Homo sapiens: one gene and its partners. The protein of the gene in region 4 purifies or fractionates together with the protein of the main gene of each other region. This does not show direct contact. Each region holds a gene or a part of one and is shown on either strand. Other genes may lie near its edges.

The links.
Region 1: the proteins of RAB31 (region 4) and GDI2 purify together in Homo sapiens (affinity purification with mass spectrometry; 4 studies listed by BioGRID and IntAct, with this or other methods). This does not show direct contact.
Region 2: the proteins of RAB31 (region 4) and CHM purify together in Homo sapiens (affinity purification with mass spectrometry; 4 studies listed by BioGRID and IntAct, with this or other methods). This does not show direct contact.
Region 3: the proteins of RAB31 (region 4) and RAP1GDS1 purify together in Homo sapiens (affinity purification with mass spectrometry; 3 studies listed by BioGRID and IntAct, with this or other methods). This does not show direct contact.

What each region holds. Positions count from the first base shown.
Region 1 is NC_000010.11:5,784,544-5,790,294, forward strand, and holds part of GDI2 (rab GDP dissociation inhibitor beta), read right to left. Parts: intron 1,508-5,751; coding exon 1,309-1,507; intron 731-1,308; coding exon 599-730; intron 1-598. UniProt on the Homo sapiens protein: GDP-dissociation inhibitor preventing the GDP to GTP exchange of most Rab proteins. By keeping these small GTPases in their inactive GDP-bound form regulates intracellular membrane trafficking.
Region 2 is NC_000023.11:85,951,681-85,957,431, forward strand, and holds part of CHM (rab proteins geranylgeranyltransferase component A 1), read right to left. Parts: intron 4,699-5,751; coding exon 4,473-4,698; intron 1-4,472. UniProt on the Homo sapiens protein: Substrate-binding subunit of the Rab geranylgeranyltransferase (GGTase) complex.
Region 3 is NC_000004.12:98,420,975-98,426,725, forward strand, and holds part of RAP1GDS1 (rap1 GTPase-GDP dissociation stimulator 1), read left to right. Parts: intron 1-280; coding exon 281-420; intron 421-5,751. UniProt on the Homo sapiens protein: Acts as a GEF (guanine nucleotide exchange factor) for the Rho family of small GTP-binding proteins (G proteins) that stimulates the dissociation of GDP to enable subsequent binding of GTP.
Region 4 is NC_000018.10:9,713,575-9,719,325, reverse strand, and holds part of RAB31 (ras-related protein Rab-31), read right to left. Parts: intron 3,066-5,751; exon of another isoform or gene 2,970-3,065; intron 1-2,969. UniProt on the Homo sapiens protein: The small GTPases Rab are key regulators of intracellular membrane trafficking, from the formation of transport vesicles to their fusion with membranes.

The DNA of each region.
Region 1 (5,751 bases), on a different chromosome or scaffold from region 4:
CTGGATAGACTATGTCAGAGGGAAGATCTGGAACTCAAGGGCTGCTGTTCAGATTCTTTTGTCCCACAGGGATGCTCCCTTGATGTGGTGCTCTCCCCTTTCCCCTAGGGATGGGGCTTCCTGAGAGCCAAACTGCAGTGATTGTTATTTCTCTTCTTGATCTAGCCGCCCAGTGGAGATAATCAGGCTCTAAGCTGGTACTGGAGAGTGTCTGCAAAGAGTCCTGTGATGTGATCTGTCTCCAGGTCTCTCAGGCGTGGATACCAGCACTTACTCTGGTGGAGGTAACAGGGGTGTGAAGTAGATTCTGTGAAGGTCCTTGGTTGTATTTTTGTTAAGTGCGCTGGTTTTGTATTGGCTGGCCTCCAGCCAGGAGTTGGCACTTACAAGAGCACATCAGCTACAGTTGTATAAAACTGGATTTTTTTTAACTGAAGATCCATGCATATCATTATATGTTAATTTTATTTCAATAAAAATAAAAAGCATCTTATTACTCATAGACTGATCTCATCTCATTATTTAAACTATATCTCATATACACATTATGTTGAAGATGAGGTTTTGGATCACTGAGGTTTTAAACACAGGCTCTTACCTTGCAAATCCTTGGGGCAGTTCTCCAAGGCCATAGAGTGGATAAAGGTATGGGCTTTTGCCATATCTTGCCAAAGATTCACTGTAAAGTTTAATTCTATTAATGGTTTCATAACACGGTTGATCTAAGTAACTGGAAGAAAGGAAATGAGTATTAGGAAAGGGCTTTAGTTTTCATTCATGGTGTTCAATTTATAATTTTTTTTGAAGCGATTTCAATCCGCTATCTTCTTTTTTGTTTTTTTGTTTTTTGAGACAGGGTCTCACTCTGTCGCCCAGACTGGAGTGCAGTGGTGCAATCTCGGCTCCCCACAACTTCCACCTCCCAGGCTCAAGTGATTCTTCTGCCTCAGCCTCCCAAGTGGCTGGAATTACAGGGACGCACCACTACCGCCCAACTAATTTTTGCATTTTTAGTAGAGAGGGGGTTTCACCATGTTGGCCAGGCTGGTCTTGAACTCCTGACCTCAAATGATCCACCCAACTTGGCCTCCCAAAGTGCTGGGATCACAGGCGTGAGCCACCACACCTGGCCCACTACCTTTATATTTAAATCACTTAAAAGGTCCCAACACTAATTTCAACTAGAACCTCTTCATTCATAGTGCAATATGGCTAAGTATTTGTTTTGTTAGAATTTCCACTTGGAAGACTTGGGAAATTTAGTGAGAATTTCAAGAAAAATACAAATCTAAAAACCAAAATACTTACTCATCAGTTCTGTAAAGTGCAAGAGCATGACCAGTAAAATCTATAACGTCTTGACCCAAATCAAATTTCTTATACACATCTCGCATTGTGGTCTTCTTAGGATCAATGCCTTCAAAAGTTCTTGGATCTTTTTCATCGAAGTTGGCAACATACACTAGGAATTTCCTGAAGCGACGTTTTTCAAACAATCCCATTAGGCCTAAATAAAAAAGAATTTTTCAAAAAGCACACTCACAATCAGACATTGAGGAGAACGAAGTATGAGAGCAAAGTTTAAACATGCCTTGTTATCAACTGCGGAATGCAGGATGCAATTTTTTTTTTTTTTTTTTTTTTTGAGACAGAGTCTTGCTCTGTCGCCTAGACTGGAGTGCAATGACGCAATCTCAGCTCACTGCAACCTCTGCCTCCCGTGTTCAAGCGATTCTCCTGTCTCAGCCTCCCGAGTAGCTGGGATTATAGGCAACCGCCATTACGCCCAGCTAATTTTTGTACTTTTGGTAGAAACAAGGTTTCACCATGTTAGGCTGGTCTCAAACTCCTGACCTCAGGTGATCCGCCCACCACGGCCTCCCAAAGTGCTGAGATTACAGGCATGAGCCACCGCGCCTAAAATGCAGGATGCAATTTAAGATATGGGAGTTTGGACAGCATGGCTTCCAGTTTCACAACACCTTAAACTGACACGATTATAACAGGTTACTTATAAAGTCTTCAATTCTACCATACAATTACAAGTAATTAAAACTACTACTTAACTGAATGAAAAATGTCAAATTATGTTTCTTACTAGGTACAAGGTAAATGTGACTCTGAACAAGTATCCATGAAGCCACCCATCTGAAGAGTCTCCCTTTGACAACTCTGATCTACACTCAGCCAATTGCCTAAATTCTGAATGCTCTTGCTTTTCCGCCTCTGTATGCTAAGATACAACCGGGCACTTAATGATAACAGCTTAAGATAACAAGAACAAATTGACCTCGATAAAATTTCGATGCTGCTGCTACTGCTGCTAGTCACTTATTTTACTGAAGTCCTACATAAGCAACCAATTCGCTGCATTTTACACTAAAAAACAGATGAAGAAGCTACAAATTACCACTTTATAAATCCTCAGCTTTTATTACTAGGCTGTATTTCAACTAATCATAGATGATAGACAAATAGCCAACAAAAAAGAAAATTTTCTGATTTTATCTCCCTTCTCCCCCCATTCCTAAGCTGTACAGCTATTTTTAAAATACAACTACAGTTTTAAAAACAAACTCTCAAATGTTTCTATTGACAGCTTAATGTTTTGATAGATTTAATATTACATCCAAGATCATTTTCCAGCCAACAAAACTGAAAATTAAAACCATGAGGCTGGTCAGGTCGTAGTGGCTCACGCCTATAATCCCAGCACTTTGGAAGGCTGAGGAGGGTGGATCGCTTGAGGTCAGGAGTTCAAGACCAGCCTGACCAACATGGTGAAACCCCATCTCTACTAAAAATACAAAATTAGCTGGGTGTGGTGGCGCACGCCTGTAATCCCAACTACTTGGAAGGCTGGAGCAGGAGAATCGCTTGATAAACCCAGGAGTCAGAGATTGCACTGAGCCGAGATTGCACCATTGTACTCCAGCCTGGGCAACAAGAGTGAGACTCCGTCTCAAAAAAAAAAAAGAAACATGAGGCTATTAATGACAACTGACTACATTTAATTTTTTAAAATTAAGATTTACAATTCAGCCTTTTAAATGGACAGAATGTACACACAGTAAAGGCATAAGGCTGAATAGAAATATCCTATTACCACATCAGCACTATACTTAAGACACAAGTGTAGTTGTAAGAGCTGGGTATAAGACAGGCAAAAGGAAACATGAATCACTATTTCAATGCACTTAAAACTTAGGTATCATATTCCGGTCGGCACAGCCTGTCAGAACTTAAAGCTATTACTAACAGTTATTTTGGAGTATCTCCCAACTTTTGTTTATTTAATAGAAACCTGAGTTGCTGTTACCAACTTTTGTTTTAATCAAAATAAAAATCTATCATGTTTCCTTCTCTTTCCTCTCCTTTATTTTCCTCCATTACCTGATCCTTACCCAGAGAGGGATAGAAATCAGTGCCACTCCTGTTTTACACAGCACAGTAGAGACGTCCTGGCTGTTTTTCCATCCCTTAATTCCATGTTGCTATGCATGGCGCCAAATAGTGATCTCAATGACTAGCTGTTAACAGCATGAGAACCAGATATAATTGTATTACAAATACTTCAAACACCCAGTGCTCATTCTGAAAAACTCCTAATTGAAAAAGTTCAAATCAATAACGTGTTTCCTACTGTGTTTTTTTTTTTTCCATAGAAACAAGGTCTCGCCATGTTGCCCAGGCTGGTCTCAAACTCCCAGGCTCCTAAAGTGTGGAATCACAGGTGTGAGCCACTGCACCTAGTCCCTACTAGGTAGATAATTTTTTACAACTACTATTTATCTATGCTGATGCCTTCCCAGATCACTTTATTTAAAGCGTCCTTCTCACACTCCCTCCTTCCTCTTTCCCCCACAGCAATGGATCACCATGGGATATGCCTTTCTGTATTTACAGTTGTCCCTTGAATAACACATCTGAACTGCCACTTTTTATGTAGATCAGAGGTGTCCAATTTTTTGGCTTCCCTGGGCCACGTTGGAAGAAAAAGAATTGCCTTGGGCCACACATAAAATACACTAACGATAGCTAATGAGCTTTAAAAAAATTGTGAAAAAAAATCTCATGTTTTAAGAAAGTTAACAAATTTCTGTTGGGCTGCATTCAAAGCTACCCTGGACCACATGCAGCCCATAGGCCACAGACAGGACAAGCTTGATGTAGATTTTTTCTTGTCAATAAATGTACTGAAAAAATTTTTGGAGGTTTGCATGTTTTTTTTTTTTTAAAAGGAGTCTCACTCTGTCGCCCAGGCTAGAGTGCGCAGTGGCGCGATTTCGGCTCACTGCAACCTCTGCCCCTGAGGTTCAAGCAATACTCCCACCTAAGCATCCCGAGTAGCTAGGATTAAAGGCATGCACCATCAGACCTGGCTAATTTTTTTTTGTATTTTTAGTAGAGATGGGGTTTCACCATGTTGGACAGGCTGGTGTCAAACTCCTGACCTCAAGTGATCCGCCTGCCTCAGCCTCCCAAAGTGCTGGGATGACAGGCATGAGCCACTATGCCCAGCCAGGTTTGTTTTTTCTTTCAGTTCTACGTTTTATTTTACTTGATTTTTTTTTTTTCCTTTTTGAGATGAGATCTCTGTCACCCAGACTAGAGTGCAGTGGCGCAACCACAGCTCACTGCAGCCACCAACTTCCTGGGCTCAAGCAATCTTCCTGCATCAGCCTCCTGAGTAGCTGGGACTACAGGGTATTCAGCTAATTTTTCTTCTATTTCTTGTAGATACAGGGGTCTTACTATGTTGCCCAGGCTGATCTCGAACTCTCGGGCTCAAGTGATCCACCCACCTCAACCTCCCAAAGTGCTAGGATTACAGCCATGAGCCACAGTAGCCGGCCAAATGATTTTTTTTTTAAGAGATAGGGTCTTGCTATATAAGGATATATCGTCCAGGCTAGAGGTGCAGTGACTATTCCCAGGTGTGAACATAGCACAGTACAGCCTCAAATGCCTGGGTTCAAGCAATCCTCCTGCCTTGGCCTACCAAGTGGCTAGGATTACAGGTGCACAGCAACATGCCCAGCAGATTTGTGACAATTTGAAAAAACTTGCAGATGAACCGCATAGCCTAGAAATACCAAAAAAATTAGAAAAAAGTTATGTATGTCATGAATGCTAAAATATATGTAGATATTATTTACTATCATAAATATATGCAATTCTATTTCAAAGTTAAAATTTAATCACAAAACTTAGGCACACAAACACAGACCATACACGGTGCCACTGTAAACAAAGAAAGATGTAGTATTAAGTCTTAACTGCGTAAGATTAACTGCAGTACATACTGTACTACTGTAATAACTCTGGAGCCACCTTTTGTTGCTAATGTGGTGAGCTCAAGTGTTTGAATATCTTAAAACTCTATGTGACAATAATCATCTCTGCATGAGCAGTTCACCTCTCCAGTAAATTATCTGTCACAGTAAAAAGTGATCTCTCCTTGTTCTCACATATTTTTCATCGTGTTTAGTGCAACACCATAAACACTGAGTAAAACGTAGGACCCACAGGGAATGCCACTGATGCTGGAAGTGCTCCCAAGAAGCAAAGTCATGACATTACAAGAAAAAGTTGAATTCCTTGAAACGTACCAACTGACTTCAGGTCTGCGGCTGCAGTTGCCCGCCATTTCAGACAGACAATTCATCTCATACACATACAACCTAAACTTTTGGTACCAATAAGTCCAGTATGGTACTGTAAATGTACTTTCTCTTCCTTATCATCTTC
Region 2 (5,751 bases), on a different chromosome or scaffold from region 4:
GCCTCTAGTGATCATCCCTCCCACAGGAATGCGGAATTTTAACAACTAACTACACACAAAAAAAGAACCATCATAAGAAGCAAAAATCAGGTAAGCAATCACAGTACCAGGCTGCAACTTCCTATCACTGAAGGAGGCACTGAAGACAGTCTTGAATGGTCAATGCCAACCCTCCCCAATTCCACGGCAGTGGCCACATGGTGTGGAAAGAGAAATCTATGCATTTGAGGGAGTGAGAGCATAGCAACTGGGGGATGTAGCATTGAACTTGGTGCTGCCCTGTCAGTGGAGAGCAAAGCTATGCTAGGCTCAGGTGGCACTGAGAGAACATTTGGACCAGCCCTAGCAAGAAAGGAATGGCCCATCCCAGCAGCTGGAACTCGAGTGTCTCAGCAAGCCTTGTCACAATGGGCTAAAGTGCTCTGGAGTTCTAGGTAAACTTGAAAGGCAATCTAGGACACAAGGACTGTAATTCCCAGGCAAGTGCTAATGCTAGGCTGGGCTTAGAGCCCATGGACTAGGGCAGCACATGACCTAGGGAGAAACAGCCTGGGCAGCTAAGGGAGTGCTTGTGCCACCCCTCCCCAAACCCTAGGCCATGCAGCTCACAGCAACGAAGGTGTCTAATTCCTTCTGCTTGAGAAGAGGAGAGCAAAGAGTAAAAGGACTTTGTCTTTCATCTTGGATAGCAGCTCAGCCACAATAAGATAGGACACCAGGCAGAGTCATGAGGCCACCATTCTAGACCCTAACTCCCAGAAAACATTTCTAGACATACCATGGACGATAAGGGAACCCATTGCCTTCAAAGGAAGGACCCAATCCTGGCAGGGCTCATCACTTGCTAGTTAAAAGCCCTTGGCTACAAAATAATCAACAGTAATACCCAGGTAGTATGCCGTGAGCCTTGGGTGAGATTCTGAGACATGCTGGCTTCAGGTGAGACCCAGTACATTCCCAGCTGTGGTATCTATGGCAAAAGACTTCTGTTTGAGAAAAGCAGAGAGAAAAGTAAAGGGGACTTTGTGTTGTGTGTTAAACACCAACTCAGACACAGGGGTGCAGAGCACCAAGCAGGCTCTTGGGAACTCAAGTCGAGGCCTAGGCTCTTAGAAAGCCTTTCTGGACCTACCCTCGGCCAGAGGGGAGCCCACTGCCATGAAGGGTAAGGCCCAGGCCTGGAAGCATTCAACACAAGCTTACTGAAGGGTACTTGGGGTTTAAGTGAACATCAGGGGTGGCCTGGCAGAACTCCCAGTTGACCAGTGGCTGTGGTGGCCACTGGGAGAGGCTGAGAGAAGTCAAATTATCCTTGTTTGCAGATGATATAATTTTATATTTGGAGAATCCTAAAGACCCCATCAAAAACCTATTAGACTGACAAATTTAGTAAAGTTGCAGGGTATAAAATCAACATACAAAATTAATAGCATTTCTATATGTCAACACTGAAGAATCCAAAAGAGAAATTTTAAAAAGTAATCTCAATTAGAATACCCACAAATGCAATTAAATACCTAGGAATTAGCTTAATCAAAGAAGTGTACGATTCCTACAATGAAATCTATAAAACACTGATGAAAGATATTGAAGAGGACACAAAGAAATGGAAAACTATTCCATGTTCATGAACTGGAAGAATCAATATTGTTAAAATGTCCATACTATGCTAAGCAATCTACAGATTTAATGCAATCTATATCAAAATATCTATGGCATTCTTCAGAGAAATAAAAAAAATCCTAAAATGTATATAGAGACACAAAAGACCCAGAATAGCCAAAGCTATCCTGAGCAAAAATAATAAAACTGGAGGAATCACATTACCTTATTTCAAATTATACTACAGAACTATAGTCACCAAAACAGCATGGTACTGGCATAAAAACAGACACATAAACCAAAAAAACAGAATAGAGAACCCAGAAACAAATCCACACACCTACAGTGAACTCATTTTTGACAAAGGTGCCAAGAATATACACTGGGTAAAAGACAGTCTTTTCCATAAAGGGTGTTGGGGTAACTGGATATCTGTATGCAGAAAAATGAAACTAGACCCCTATCTTTTGCAGTATATAAAAAGCAAATCAAAATGGATTAAAGAATTAAATCTAATGCCTCAAACTTTGAAACTACTACAAGAAAACATCGGAGAAAACCTCCAAGACACTGGTCTGGGCAAAGATTTCTTAAGCAATGCCCCACAAGCACAGGCGACTAAAGCAAAAATGGACAAACGGGAACACATGAAGTTAAAAAGTTTCTGCACAGCAAAAGAAACCATAAACAAAGTGAAAAGACAACCCACAGAATGAAAGAGAATATCTGCAAACTACCCGTCTAACAAGGAATTAATGACCAGAATATATAAGTAGCTCAAACAACTCTACAGGAAAAAAATCTAATGATATGACTAAAAATTGGGCAAAAGATCTGAATAGACATTTTTCAAAAGAAGACATACAAATGACAAGGAGACATATAAAAAGGTGTTCAACATCACTGATCATCAGAGAAATGCACATCAAAATTACAATGAGATATTTTATTACCCCAGTTAAAATAACTTTTATTCAAAAGAAAGACACTAGCAAATGCTGGCAAAGATACGGAGAAAAGGGAACCCTTGAACACTGTGGGTGGGAGTGTTAATTAGTACAACCACTGTGGAGAACAGTTTGGAAGTTCCTCAGAAAAGTAAAAATAGAGCTACCATACGATCTAGCAATCCCACTGCTAGGTATATACCCAAAAGAAAGGAAATCAGTGTATCAAAGGGATATCTACATACCACATTTGTCGCAGCACTGTTCACAATAACCAAGATTTGGAAGCAACCTAAGTGCCCAGCAACAGATAAATGGATAAAGAAAATGTAGTACAGTTACACCTTGGAGTAATACTCAGCCATAAAAAGAACGAGATCCTGGCTGGGCATGGTGGCTCACGCCTGTAATACCAGCACTTTGGGAGGCTGAGATGGGTGGATCACAAAGTCGGGAGTTCAAGACTAGCCTGGCCAAGATGCTGAAACTCCATCACTACTAAAAATACAAAAATTAGCCAGGTGTGGTGGCACGTGCCTGTAATCCCAGCTACTCAGGAGACTGAGGCAGGAGAATCACTTGAACCTGGGTGGCAGAGGTTGCAGTGAGCCGAGATCACACCACTGCACTCCACCCTGGGTGACAGAGCAAGACTCCATCTCCCAAAAAAAAAAAAACAAAAGAATGAGACCCTGACATTTGCAACAACATGACAACATGGATGAAACTGGAGGTCATTATATTAAGTGAAATAAGCCAGCCACAGAAAGACAAACAATGCATATCCTCACTTACTTGCGGGAGCTAAAAATTAAAACAATTAAACATATGGAGACAGAGAGTAAAAGGATGGTTATCAGAGCCTGGGGCGGGTTTTGAGGGGGCAGCGGATAAGTAGGAATGGTTAATAGGTACAAAACGTAGTTAGAAAGAATGAATAAAATCTAGTGTTTGATATTACAACAGAGTGACTACAGTCAATAATGATTTAATTGTACATGTTAAAATGAAGAGTATAATTGGATTGTTTTCAACACAAAGGATAAATGTGTGAAGGGATGGATACTCCATTTACCATGATGGATTACACTTTGCATGCCTGTATTAAACTATCTCATGTACCCCACAAACACATATGCCTCCTATGTACCCACAAAAAATAAAAATTTTTAAAAATGTGTAAAACAAACAAAAAAAGACACAAACAAGTATTCCCTGAAGATAAAACATGAATGGCCAGTAAACATATGAGAAAAGGTTCAACTTCATAGGTAATTAGGGAAATGAAAAATAAAAATCCAATGCAATGATAATTTATGTGAGTTAGGTTGACAAAAAAATTTTAAATGTTGGCAAACATGTAAAGCTTTGGGTATTCTTATGTACGGCTAAAAGGTTATAATTGGTACAGCCCTCTAGAGAAATAACTGAACACGATGTTGTAAAGTGTTAACATTCATGTATCTCAGGACTGGGGAATTCCACCCCTAGATATGTTTCCGAGAGAAATTCTTGAACATACACAACTTGAAACATACACAAGGGTGTTAACCTCAAAAAACTGGAAACATCCTGTGTTCATCAACAGAAAAATGAAAAAATAGATTGTGGTGTATTCACAATAACATACTATATAGTAATAAAAAATTAACTAAAATTATATGCAATGACAATACTTTCCATCATGCTATTGAGTGGAAAAAGGAATTTATAGTATTTTTATCAAGCTCAAAAAGAGGCCACACTGAATATATCACTTAGGTGGGTAGATAGGTAGGTAAATAGATTATAAAAAATAAATAGAATAAAGTATATATTTGCATATACTAAATCTTGAATAAATCTCATTTTTGCCTGCCTAATTTTCATCTGTTATTCAAGTATCACTTTTAGAAGGGACAAGAAAATCAATGGCAAACTTACCTGCAGAAACACTGGGGGAGTTCTCCTTGGCCATATAAAGGAAACAAAAATGGAGTGTTGCCATACCGCCCAAGACAGTGAAGAAAGTTTTTGGTAGCTTTGAGACCATCTATGGTGCTGCTGGCTGTCTCTGATGTCATTGCAATTGAATGCATGACAATATATTGGAGGTTGGGGGTTAATTTTTGAGTCTTTAAATATTCATAAAATGTGATCTCTTCATATCCTATGAAAAGATGAAATTTTATCACTTAAAATCAGAACTAAACTTCTATTTAAAACCACCCCACAAAAAGGAGATGAAGTGTGTTTCACAGACCTCACAAAGGACATAGGTGGTATTACATTTTGGACACTGATGGTTGATCTTAGGAAAAAATGGAAACAATCTCTCTCTCTTATTTGGAGTAATGGCACAATTTTTAGCTTTAAATGATGAATTATGATTGAGCATTTCATGGATTTAAAAAAAACTAGAAAATATTAAATAACTCAATGGGTTGTCATAGTTGGCAATAATCTCACTTTATTATCATGAAACCTGCAGGATAATGCCAATAATGGTACTGAAAATATTAAACAACTATGACAACATGGGAATGTATTGATTTAAAATGATAAATATGTGAGTTTTGTAAAACGTATACTTCTCACTGATACTCAGAAAATAAACTAAAAAATAATGAAATGAATTTCCATGTGGCTACTGGAATCAGTCTTATGGCCACATAATCACATCAAAACATACGGGACCCCCAGAAGTTACTCCTTTAAACCAAGAACAGAATATAATGTAATTGGACTGTTAGTGGTGGGAAATAAATCCCATGATAAAAGACAAAAACTTTACAGAAATAATTTACATAAATAAAAATTATGAAAATTTACTGAGAGAATTGAATTTTACACAGCCACTGTGGATAACAACATGACAGTACCTAGTAGACTTGAAGCTTTAAGAGCAAGGATTAGACTTTCATTATTTCACAGAGGAAAAAAAATATCGCTGCACTTCTCATTGTAACTTTATAAATAAATTATCAATAGTATATTCCAATTTTGGATAACATTTTCAGACCAATGGACTTAAAGTATATAGCTCTGACACTAAAATGGCATATTCAATTTTTAACAGACAATGAAGTAACTGGCCCCAGATCACATAATGAAATAGGTCAAAGCCAAGAATAGAAACCATGCCTTTTCTGAATCCAGTATTTTTCCCCATATACCATCTAGCCTTTTTTTTTCAAACGAAATAGTTCAAGATTCTATGCAA
Region 3 (5,751 bases), on a different chromosome or scaffold from region 4:
TTCTAAGAACCCTGCATTATAGTCCGCCAGAGCACTAACAGACTAGCAGGCTTAACCAAAAGAGTATGAAGTCATTTGTTGTTGTATTTTCTATAAAATTTCACAGTGTTACAGAAGAAGGCAAATAGCCCATCACATAAGGAATATTTGCAGTTCTAGCTTTAATGAAATTGTCGTGCTGTGTTTTTTTAGACGTCCTTCACACTCTCAAATCTGTACGAATTATTTCAACTGATTGTCTGTTAGTGATTCATTCCTTGGTTTGCCTTCTTTCCTATAGCAGAAGCTGCTGAACAATTGGGAAAGAATGTTAAGTTAGTGGAGCGTTTGGTGGAATGGTGTGAAGCCAAAGATCATGCTGGTGTGATGGGGGAGTCAAACAGACTGCTGTCTGCCCTTATACGACACAGTAAATCAAAAGTAAGTTCCAGAGGAAACTGTTCACTAGAAAACTTCAGAGTGTCTTTTTCAGAAACCCAGCATTGTAGGTCCTAACAACTGGGATAATATTTACCTGAAAGTATTGTGAAGATTCAGTGAGATCATGTATATAATGTGCTTAGCTGATACATGGGATATAGGAAACACTCGGTAAATGGGGGTTGCTGTTGTTGCTGCTGCTATTGTTGTTATTACTTTTACCACCACCGTTATCAGCATCAGTGTCAAACATTCTTTGTGCCAGGCATTGACCATGCAGCCTACTGATATTTAGAAATTAAATGGTACCTAGATAGTATATGATGTCCAGAGCTCACAGAGTTAGAAAAAAATCCATTCTTGTGGCTGGCTGTGCCGCTGTCTGGCACATGGTAGATAACCAATAAATGAACAAATGAGCTATTTTAAAGATCACAATAGTGAGTACCCAGGCCAGCAGTTCAGCAGCTGATTTAGTATCTAGATTATATGATTTTTAAATTTTTTAAATACTGTTTTCTTGTTGGGCGTGGTGGCTGACACCTGTAATCCCAGCACTTTGGGAGACTGAGGTGGGCAGATCATGAGGTCAGGAGATCAAGACCATCCTGGATAACATAGTGAAACCCCGGGTCTACTAAAAATACAAAAAAAAATTAGCTGGGCGTGGTGGCGGGCACCTGTAGTCCCAGCTACTCGGGAGGCTGAGGCAGGAGAATGGCGTGAACCCGGGAGGCGGAGCTTGCAGAGAGCCGAGATTGCACCACTGCACTCCAGCCTGGGTGACAGAGCAAGACTCCGTCTCAAAATAAAATAAAATACTGTTTTCTTTTTCTTTTTTGAGACTGAGTCTTGCTCTCTCGCTCAGGCTGGAGTACAGTGGCACAATCTCAGCTCATTGCAACCTCCACCTCCTGGGTTCAAGCAATTCTCCTGCCTCAGCCTCCAGAGTAGCTGGGATTACAGGCAGGCGCCACCACACTCGGCTAATTTTTGTATTTTTAGTAGAGATGGGGTTTCACCATGTTGGCCAGGCTGGCCTCAAACTCCTGACCTCATGATCCTCCCACCTTGGCCTCCCAAAGTGCTGGGATTACAGGCATGAGCCACCATGCCCAGCCTTTAATACTGTTTTCTAAGGTGACCCTTTCAGTCATTTCTCTTGTACAACTTCAGTAGTGATTATATATGAGGAGAAAGTTTAGAACTCAAATCCACCAGCTGTTTTCATTTATTTTTAGAACAGATAAGAAGAAGATGCCAAGAGAAAAAACGTAAAACTAAAGCTGTTCTTGTATAAATCTCTTTCATATAAATAATTGGCTTCACCATAATAGCTGTCCCAGCTGGTAAGCCTCAGGAGTGTTCTTCTCCATCAGATGCTAAATCTTGAGAACTTTCCCTGGGGAAAAGCAGCTGTTAACTAGGACCTTCCTATTACCTGTCTCACCCAGACCACCCTAAAAGCTCATACATTTTTCCTGACACAGGACCAAGCAGTATGTTGGCAAGGTGGAAGTTGTCAGGAGAGAATAGCAAAATGGCTTCCTTGGTACCCCTTTGACCCCTTCTCCATCATAACTGCTCTCTCACGCCCATTTGTTCATTTAACAGTTAATATTTGAGTTCTTGCAGTGTAAATACTAAAAAATAGTGTTTCTATAAAGGAATTAACTATCCGTTGAGGGGACAGAAATAAAAACAGCTAGCTTAAGTACAGCTTTAAAGCTACGTATGCTATTCGGGTGTAACAGAGGAAAGAAAGACTAACACACTGTCTGGGTAATCTGGGATGGTGCCATAGAAGGAGTGCTATTTTAGGCGTTAACTAGGAATCTCAGGAGGAAAGGGAAAGAGAATGAAGGAAAGGGCCTTTTCAGGCAAAGACAGCAGGATGTACAAAAGCACAGAGATGTAAAACAGCATAATTTTTTAAAGAAACTGCAAATAAAGCAGTATTGCTAGAACACAGAGTGTAGAAAGAGACAGTAGCCAGAGAGGTTGAAAACTGGGAATTAAGTGAATTATATACCAAGTTAAGATATATGGACTTGATTCTGTAGAGAATTCGGGAGCACTTAAAGGGTTTTAAGCAGCAAGTTGCCATTATTTGAGGGTTTTTTTGTTTTCTTTATTTTTTGTTTTTTTGTTTTTTCGGGGTTTTTTTGAGACAGAGTTTCGCTCTTGTTGCCCGGGCTGGAATGCAATGGTGCGATCTCCACTCACTGTAACCTCCGCCTCCCGGGATCAAGTGATTCTCCTGCCTCAGCCTCCTGAGTAGCTAGGATCACAGGCGTGCACCACCATGCCCGGCTAATTTTGTATTTTTAGTAGAGACGGGGTTTCTCCATTTTGGTCAGGCTGGTCTCAAACTGCCGACCTCAGGTGATCCGCCTACCTCGGCCTCCCAAAGTGTTGGGATTACAAGCGTGAGCCACCACACCCAGCCATTTAGTTTTCATTTAGAAAGATGTCTCTAGGGTTTAATGGGGGTAGAAAGGACAGTTATTGCAAAAATATATATGAGAGTTGATAAAGGACTGAATTAAGGTTTTGAGTTGAGCAATTTGAAATTGCTGATATTCAGCCATTTTTGAAACAAATTTCATATGGGTTATTCAACTAGAAGCAGCGAGGATGGAAAAGAAGAGACAGACCTGAGAAAAATATGGGTGGTAGAATTGACAGATTCAACAGTAGAATTAAAGGAGGAGGTAGTTTTAGAGCTAATTCCAAGTTTGGGGTTTACCACCAGATTGGGTTATCATGCCATTCAACAAAATAAAACACTATAGGAAGAGGTGCAGCTAACACTCCCTAAACTTGCCCACTCGCCCATGCTCTTTGGAGTCATTACCCTTAATCTTTTTGCTCTACTCCAAGAGAATCTCCACCATTGGTTTGCAGGGGTATACAATCATTTGGATTTCCCTGGGCCATATTGGAAAACGAATTGTCTTGGGCCACACATAAAATGCACTAACACTAACAATAGCTGATGAGCTTAAAAAAACAAAAATCACAAAAAAAACTCAAACACCTGTGGCATTTGAAGAAGAAGAGAAATCTAAAAGTTTAGAAAACCAGCTGAGTGCGGTGGCTCACGCCTGTAATCCCAGTACTTTGGGAGGCCAAGGTAGGTGGATCATTGTGGTCAGGAGTTCCAGACCAGCCTGGCCAACATGGTGAAACCCCATCTCTACTAAAAATGCAAAAATTAGCCAGGCATGGTGGCGTGCGCCTGTAATCCCAGCTACTGGGGAGGCTGAGGCAGGAGAATTGCTTGAACCTGGGAAGCGGAGGTTGCAGTGAGCCAAGATCGTGCCACTGCACTCCATCCTGGGTGACAGAGCAAGACTCCCAAGACTCTGTCTCCAAAAAAAAAAAAAAAACAAAGAAAACTTTTGGAAAACATATTTGGGAGAATAATCAAGGAAGACTTCTCCAGTCTTGCTAGAGACCTAGACGTCCAAATACAAGAAGCTCAAAGAATACCTGGGAAATTCATTGCAAAAAGATCATTGCCTAGGCATATTGTCATCAGGTTATCTAAAGTTAAGACAAAGGAAAGAATCTTCAGAGCTGTGAAGCAAAAGCACGAGGTAACCTATAAAGGAAAACCTATCAACTTAACAGTGGATTTCTCAGCAGAACCCCTACAAGCTAGAAAGGATTGGGGCCCTATCTTCAGTCTCCTTAAAGAAAGCAATTATCAGCCAAGAATTCTGTATCCAGTGAAACTAAGCTTCATAAATGAAGGAAAGATACAGTGTGTTTCAGACAAACAAATACTGAGAGAATTCACCACTACCAAGCCAGCACTACAAGAGCTGCCAAAAGGAGCCCTAAATCTTAAATCCTGGAAACACATCAAAACAGAACCTCTTTAAAGAATAAATCTCACAGGACCTACAAAACAAAAATACAATTAAAAAAAAAGTGGGGGGTATACAGGCAACAGATAGCATGATGAATGGAATAGTACCTCACATCTCAATACTAAGATTGAATGTAAATGGCCTAAATGTTCCACTAAAAGATACAGAATTGCAGAATAGATAAGAATTCATTAACTATCTGCTGCCTTTAAGAGACTTACCCAACACATAAGGACTCACTTAAGGTAGAGGGGTGGAAAAAGACATTCTATGTAAATGGATACCAAAAGTCAGCAGGAATAGCTATCTTGTATCAGGCAAAACAAACTTTAAAGAAACAGCAGTTCAAAAAGACAGAGGGACATTATATAATGATAAAAGGCCTTGTCCAACAGGAAAATATCACAATCCTGAATATATATGCACCAAACACTGGAGCTTCCAAATTTATAAAACAATTGCCAATAGACCTAAGAAACAAGATAGACAGTAACACAATAGTGGGAGACTTCAATACTCCACTGACAGCATTAAAGAGGTTATCAAGACAGAAAGTCAACAAAGAAACAATGGATTTAAACTATACCCTAGAACAAATGGACTTAACAGATATTTACAGAACATTCTACCCAAAACTGCAAAATATACATTCTATTCATTAGCAAATGGAACTTTTCTCCAAGATAGACCATATAATAGACCACAAAACAAGCCTCAATAAATTTTAAGAAAATTGAAATTATGGCAAGTACTCTCTCAAACCACAGTGGAATAAAACTGGAAATCAACTCCAAAAGGAACCTTCAAAGCCATGCAAATACATGGAAATTAAATAACCTGCTCCTGAATGATCACTGGGTCAATAACAAAATCAAGATGGGAATTTAAAAATTCTTTGAACTGAACAATAAATGATACAACCTATCAATACCTCTGGGATACAACAAAGGCGTTGCTAAGAGGAAAGTTTATAGCCTGAAATAGGCATTTCAAAAAGTCTGAAAGAGCACAAAGAGACAATCTAAGGTCACATTTCAAGGAACTAGAGAAACAAGAACAAACCAAACCCATACCCAGCAGAAGAAAGGAAATAACCAAGATCAGAGCAGAACTAAATGAAATTGAAACAAAAAAGACAATACAAAAGATAAATGAAACAAAAAGCTGATTATTTGAGAAGATGAATAAGATTGATAGACCATAACCAAGAAAAGAAGAGAGAAAATTCAAATAAGCTCACTTAGAAAAGAAATGGGAAATACTACAACTGACACCACAGAAATACAAAAGGTCATTCACAGCTACTATGAACACCTTTACATGCAAAAACTAGAAAACCTAGAGGAGATGGATAAATTCCTGGAAAAATACAACCTTGCTAGCTTAAATCAGGAAGAATTATTTAGATACCCTGAACAGACCAATAACAAGCAACCAGATTGAAATGGTAATT
Region 4 (5,751 bases):
TATATATATATATATATATATATATATTTTTTTTTTTTTTTTTTTTTTTTTTTTTTGAGACAGAGTCTTGCTCTGTCACCCGGGCTGGAGTACAGTGGCACAATCTCGGCTCCCTGCAACCTCCACCTCCTAGGTTCAAGTGATTCTCATGCTCCAGCCTCCCTAGTAGCTGGGATTATAGGCGCACGCCACCACGCTCAGCTAATTTTTGTATTTTTAGCAGAGAGGGGGTTTCACCATGTTGGCCAGGCTGGTCTCGAACTCCTGACCTCAAGTGAGCCACCATCCTTGGCTTCCCAAAGTGCTGGGATTACAGGCGTGAGTCACCATGCCTGGCCTTCAAATTGTAATTAGCATGCATCACTTTATGTTATGGTCTGAATATTTGTGATCCCCAAAATTTGTATGTTGAAATCCTGACCTCCAAAGTGACAATACTAGGAGGTAGAGCCTTTGGAAGGTGATTAGGTCAGAAGGCTAGAGCTCTCATGAATGGGATTAGTGCCCTTATGGAAGAGGCCCCAGGGAGCTCCCTTACCCAATGGGAAGACTCAGTCTGCAACCCCTTAGAGAGCCCTCACCAGAACCTGCCCGTATTGGCACCCTGATGGTGGACTTTCAGCCTCCAGAACTGAAGGAAATACATTTCTGTTGTTTTTCAGCCCCCAGTCTATGGTGCTTTACTATAACAGCCCAAAAAGACTAAACTACTTGATAATTTAAAAAATTAGCTCTTTAGAAGTTTATTATGAAAGTTCAGAAAATAAGGCTGGTTGCAGTGGCTCATGCCTGTAATCCCAGCACTTTGGGAGGCCGAGGCAGGTGGGTCACCTGAGGTCAAGAGTTCAAGACCAGCCTGACCAACATAGTGAAACCCCATCTCTACTAAAAATACAAAATTAGCCAGGCATGGTGGCGCATGCCTGTAATCCCAGCTACTTGGGAGGCTGACGCAAGAGAACTGCTTGAACCCAGGAGGCAGAGGCTGCAGTGAGTCGAGATCACACCACTGCACTCCAGCCTTGGTAACAAAAGCAAAACTCCATCTCAAACAAACAAACAAAAAAATTCAGAAAATATTTTAGCTGCTAAAATGAAGTATAAATTAACTACGTAGTATTGATGCCATGAGATGAACTTTAAAAAACACTTTCTAATCCCAGCACTTTGGGAGGCTGAGGCAGGTGGATCACTTGAGCCCAGGAGTTCAAGACCAGCCTGGGCAACGTGGCAAGCCCCATCTCTACAAAAGAAACCAAAAAAATTATCCAAGTGTGGTGGTGGGCACCTATAGTCCCAGCTACTCGGGAGGCTGAGGTAGAAGCATTGCTTGAACCCGGGAGGTCAAGGCTGCAGTGAGCTGTGATTGCACCACTGCACTCCAGCCTGGGCAAGACCCGGTCTCAAAAAAAGTAAATAAAATAAATAAAAAGTAAATAAATAAAACTTTCTTAATTAACCTTGCCATAAATGTAAATGCCCTGGCCAATAATCTGATTATTTAAAAAACAAACAAACACACAAGAACACCTTGCTCTTTCTCCTTGCCAGCAGTGGGCAAATTTTATGTGATACTCCACATACTGTGTGTACGTGTGTCTGTGTGTGTACGTGCGTGTCTCTCTGTCTTTCTTCTTCTCTTCTCCTCTTTCTCTCTTCTTCTCTCCACTTTCTCCCTCTGTCCTTCCCTCCCAGAGCGACACATTATATTTGCAGATCCTAGTTAGGAAAGTGATTCCATGAAGGCAGAGAGTAGTCCTGGAGAATGCAGGTATCCTTTTCTTCAAAAAAAAATACATTGATAGAAAGGCATCTAGCTCTCTGTGACATCCTGTTCAAAGAAGAGAAAATAGAAGGGAAATGACCTCCCTGTGTTCTGTTTGCTGTCCTGCAGGCCCCTTCAATTTTCTGATAACTCGAGTCTCCTAGGCACCTCTGGGGGAACTGAAAGTAGCCTAAGATATCTTCTGGGTTAAATATGGTGCAAACAGAAGCCACATTCATGACTTCTAGAGAATTCAAGCAGGTCTGAGACATCTAAACCAAGGAAATGTATTCGAAAAAAACTCATCAAAAGATCCCACAGTGAAAAACCCATTTGGTGACCTGATGTTAAATCCGACTTTTCGGAAGCAGGAGGATCACTTGAGACTGGGAGGTTGAGGCTGCAGTGAGCTGTGATCGCACCATTGCACTCCAGCCTGGATGACAGAGTAAGACCCTGTCTCAAAAAACAAAAAAACAAAAAAGAAGCCCACTTTTTGGCTGGGCAAAGTGACTCACACCTGTAATCCCAATATTTTTGGGGAGGCTGAAGTGGGAGGATCGCTTGAGCCCATGAATTCAAGACTAGCCTGGACAACACAGCAAGACCCCATCTCTACCAAAAAAAAAAGAAAGAAAGAAAGAAAGAAAATTAGCCAAGTGTGGTGGCACGCCTGTAGTCCCAGCTACTCAGGAAGCTGAGGCAGGAGGATCACTTGAGCCCAGGAGTTCGAGGCTATAATGAGTTATGATCACACCACTGCATTCCAGCCTGGGTGACAGAGCAAGACTCCGTCTCAAATAAAAATTCCATTTTTCTTTTCCTCATTTCTGCTGACAAAGTTAGGTAACAAAAAAGACCACTCTGGCTCCTCAGGACATACTCTCCTCTCCACAGCTCAGCAGCTTACCACAGGAGGAAGCTGTAGGACCAGCGTCAATCCCCGGGTAAATAAGAGGCAGACGCCTCCATCCTGGGCTCTGAAGACACTGAGCACACTCAATTGTCACCCCCGCCAGCCCACTCCCACCTCTTGCCTTCTTTTCCCATAAAGCACATACCACCTCCTAACAGACCATATGATTTATTTTCCCTACCTTCCTGCTAAAATGTAGGCTCCAAGAGGTCAAAGTTCTGTGTCAGACACACCACTGCCTGACACTTGCAGAAGCTAAGAAATTTTTTTAAATAAATGCCACAGAGATAAGTGGGAAAGAGTATTTTAATATTATACATGATCACGTTAAAAAATAAGACCACTCGAGATCGCCTGCGTTGTATTCTCACCCAAACAATGAACCTGAAAGAAGTAATGAGGAAACAATCAGACACTTCCAGATCTTGGGACCGCCTACAAGACAACTGGCCTGGCTTCTTCAAAAATGCCAGAGTCATGGGGAAAAAAGAAGGGGAACTGTTTTAGATGCACAGTGACTAAAGAGACAGGACAACCAAATGAAATACATGATCTCTAACTGGACCCTTTAAATAGCTGGAAAGGACATTTGGGGGCAACTGGAAACATCTGAACATGGACCATATGTTTGATACCCTGTGTTCATGTTCAATTTAGGGGATGGGAGCATAGTATTGTGGTTACATAGGAGAATGCCCTTTTTCCTAAAAGACACATACTGAAGTATTTGTGGGTAAAGTGCCACCATGTCTGCAACTTACTTTTAAATGGTTCAAAAAAAAATGTTTAGTATTATTTATAAACAGAAAGACAGGCTGGGCACAGTGGCTCACGCCTGTAATCCCAACACTTTGGGAGGTCAAGGCAGGCAGATTGCTTGAGGCCAGGAGTTCGAGACCAGCCGGCCAACGTGGTGAAACGCCATCTCTACTAAAAAAAATACAAAAATTAGCTGGGCATGGTGTTGCACACTTGTGATTTCAGCTACTCAGGAGACTGAGGCAAGAGAATCGCTTGAACCCAGGAGGTGGAGGTTGCAGTGAGCCGAGATTGTGCCACTGCACCCCAGGCTGGTTGACAGAGCGAGACTCCATGTCAAAAAAAAAAAAAAAAAAAGAGAGAGAGAGAGACAAAGGACAAGTGACAAAATGTTACTCCTGCTGAATCTAGGGGACATTCATAGTCCTTTCAACTGCTGTGTAAGTTTTAAATTTTTCAAAAAAAAAAAAAGGGGGCAAAGGGAATTAAAAATAAAAGACCCAGTGCTAGAGAGACAGGGAGTAGGGGGTGTCAATGGAAGAGTGGGCAGGCTGGGAGGGGAGGGACTGTGCCAGAAAATACAGTGAGATCCAAGCCCCCTGCCAGGGCCTGGAGTGCACACCCACCTTTCCTTCCCTGTCCCTTTAGGCACTGTTCAAATCCTTCCTACTCCAAGAAACCTTCCCAACTCCCCACTTCACAGCCCCCGCTGTATTTGACTCCCACCATATCCCACTATACATGCAACACCTCCTGCCTCACACCCATCAGCAAGGGCCGTGTTCCTGTGCGTGTGGCACAGGAACCAACCAGAAGCCTCTCCATCCCAGGCAGGGACCAGATCCCTGCCTGACCTACTTTCTGTCTCTAGCAGAGTTAGCACAGCACTGTGCGACAGCAGGTACCCAAGACAGACCTGGAGCAAGAACTTTCTGTCCCTCCCATGCCGTCAAGTCTACTAAGCGGGATGACAGTCAGTATTTCTCATCATCACAACACACTACTTCTGTTCCGCATGGTGGGCCATGGTAAGCACCATAATAAGAATCCAGTCAATGCCACAGAGCTCACTGCTGGTGTGTTCGTGTCTTTGGGAAGGCAACAATCACTGCCATCCTGTCTACATGCAGCCACCCACAGCTCCCAGCATAAAAGAAACACTCCACAAATGGTGAATGGCTGAATGAATGAATACCTATTCCATTTTCAAACACATGTCATAAGTGATAAAAACTAAGATAAATGAAAGTGTAAAATCTGCACAGGCATGCAAACACCAAATAAGCGTTATCTACCAGGCTTAATTAAATTTTAAAGGTCTTTTCCAATTAGTGAACTCAAAAGCTTTTGCGTTCTAGCACAGAGGTCCCCAACCCCTGGGGCGGTACTGACCCATGGCTTGTTAGGAACCAGGTTGCACAGCAGGAGGTGAACAGTGAGTGAGCATTACCAGCTGAGCTCTGCCTCCTGTCAAATCAATGGTGACATTAGATTCTCACAGGAGTGCAAACCCTGTTGTGAACTGCGCATGTGAGGGATCTAAGTTGCATGCTCCTCATGAGAATCTAACTAATGCCTGATGATCTGACGTGGAACAGTTTCATCCTAAAACCATCCCCCGCCTCCTGCTCCCATCTGTGGAAAAATCGTCTTCCACAAAACTGATCCCTAGTGCCAAAAAGGTTGGGGACCACTGTCCTAGCATCTTAAAATGTAAAGTTTCCTATTTTCTCATGGCTGTGGCCTTAGAGCAGACCTAAAGGATATATCACACTCACTAAAACAGTGTCATTGGGCCAGGGCAAAAGTAGAGGCCACATGCCTGAACACTATTGACAAGGTACTATGGAATTAATATTTGTGTCCCTCCAACAAAATTCCCATTTTGAAGCCTAACCTCCAATGTGAGGATATTAGGAGGTGGGCCTTTGGGAGGTGCTTAGGTTGTGAGGGTAGAGCCTTCATGAATGGGGTTGGCGTCCTTATAAGAAGAGAAAGAGACCGAGCACTCTCTCAGTCATGTGAAGTTACAGCAAGAAGGCAGCTGTCTGCAAACCAGAAATCGAGCCCTCACCAGGCACTAGATCTGCCAGCGCCTTGGTCTTAGACTTCCCAACCTCCAGAACTGTGAGAATTAAATGTCTATTGTTTAAGCCCTCCAGCCTATGGTATTTTTGTGACAGCAGCTCAAATTAAGACATAAGGGATGGGGGAAGGGACCATGAGAAGCTTGAAAATGCTCCTCAAATGATTCTGATACACACTCCAGAGATGCACTGAGCTCTGAAAGCTGAGGGAGGATGAAAGCAGC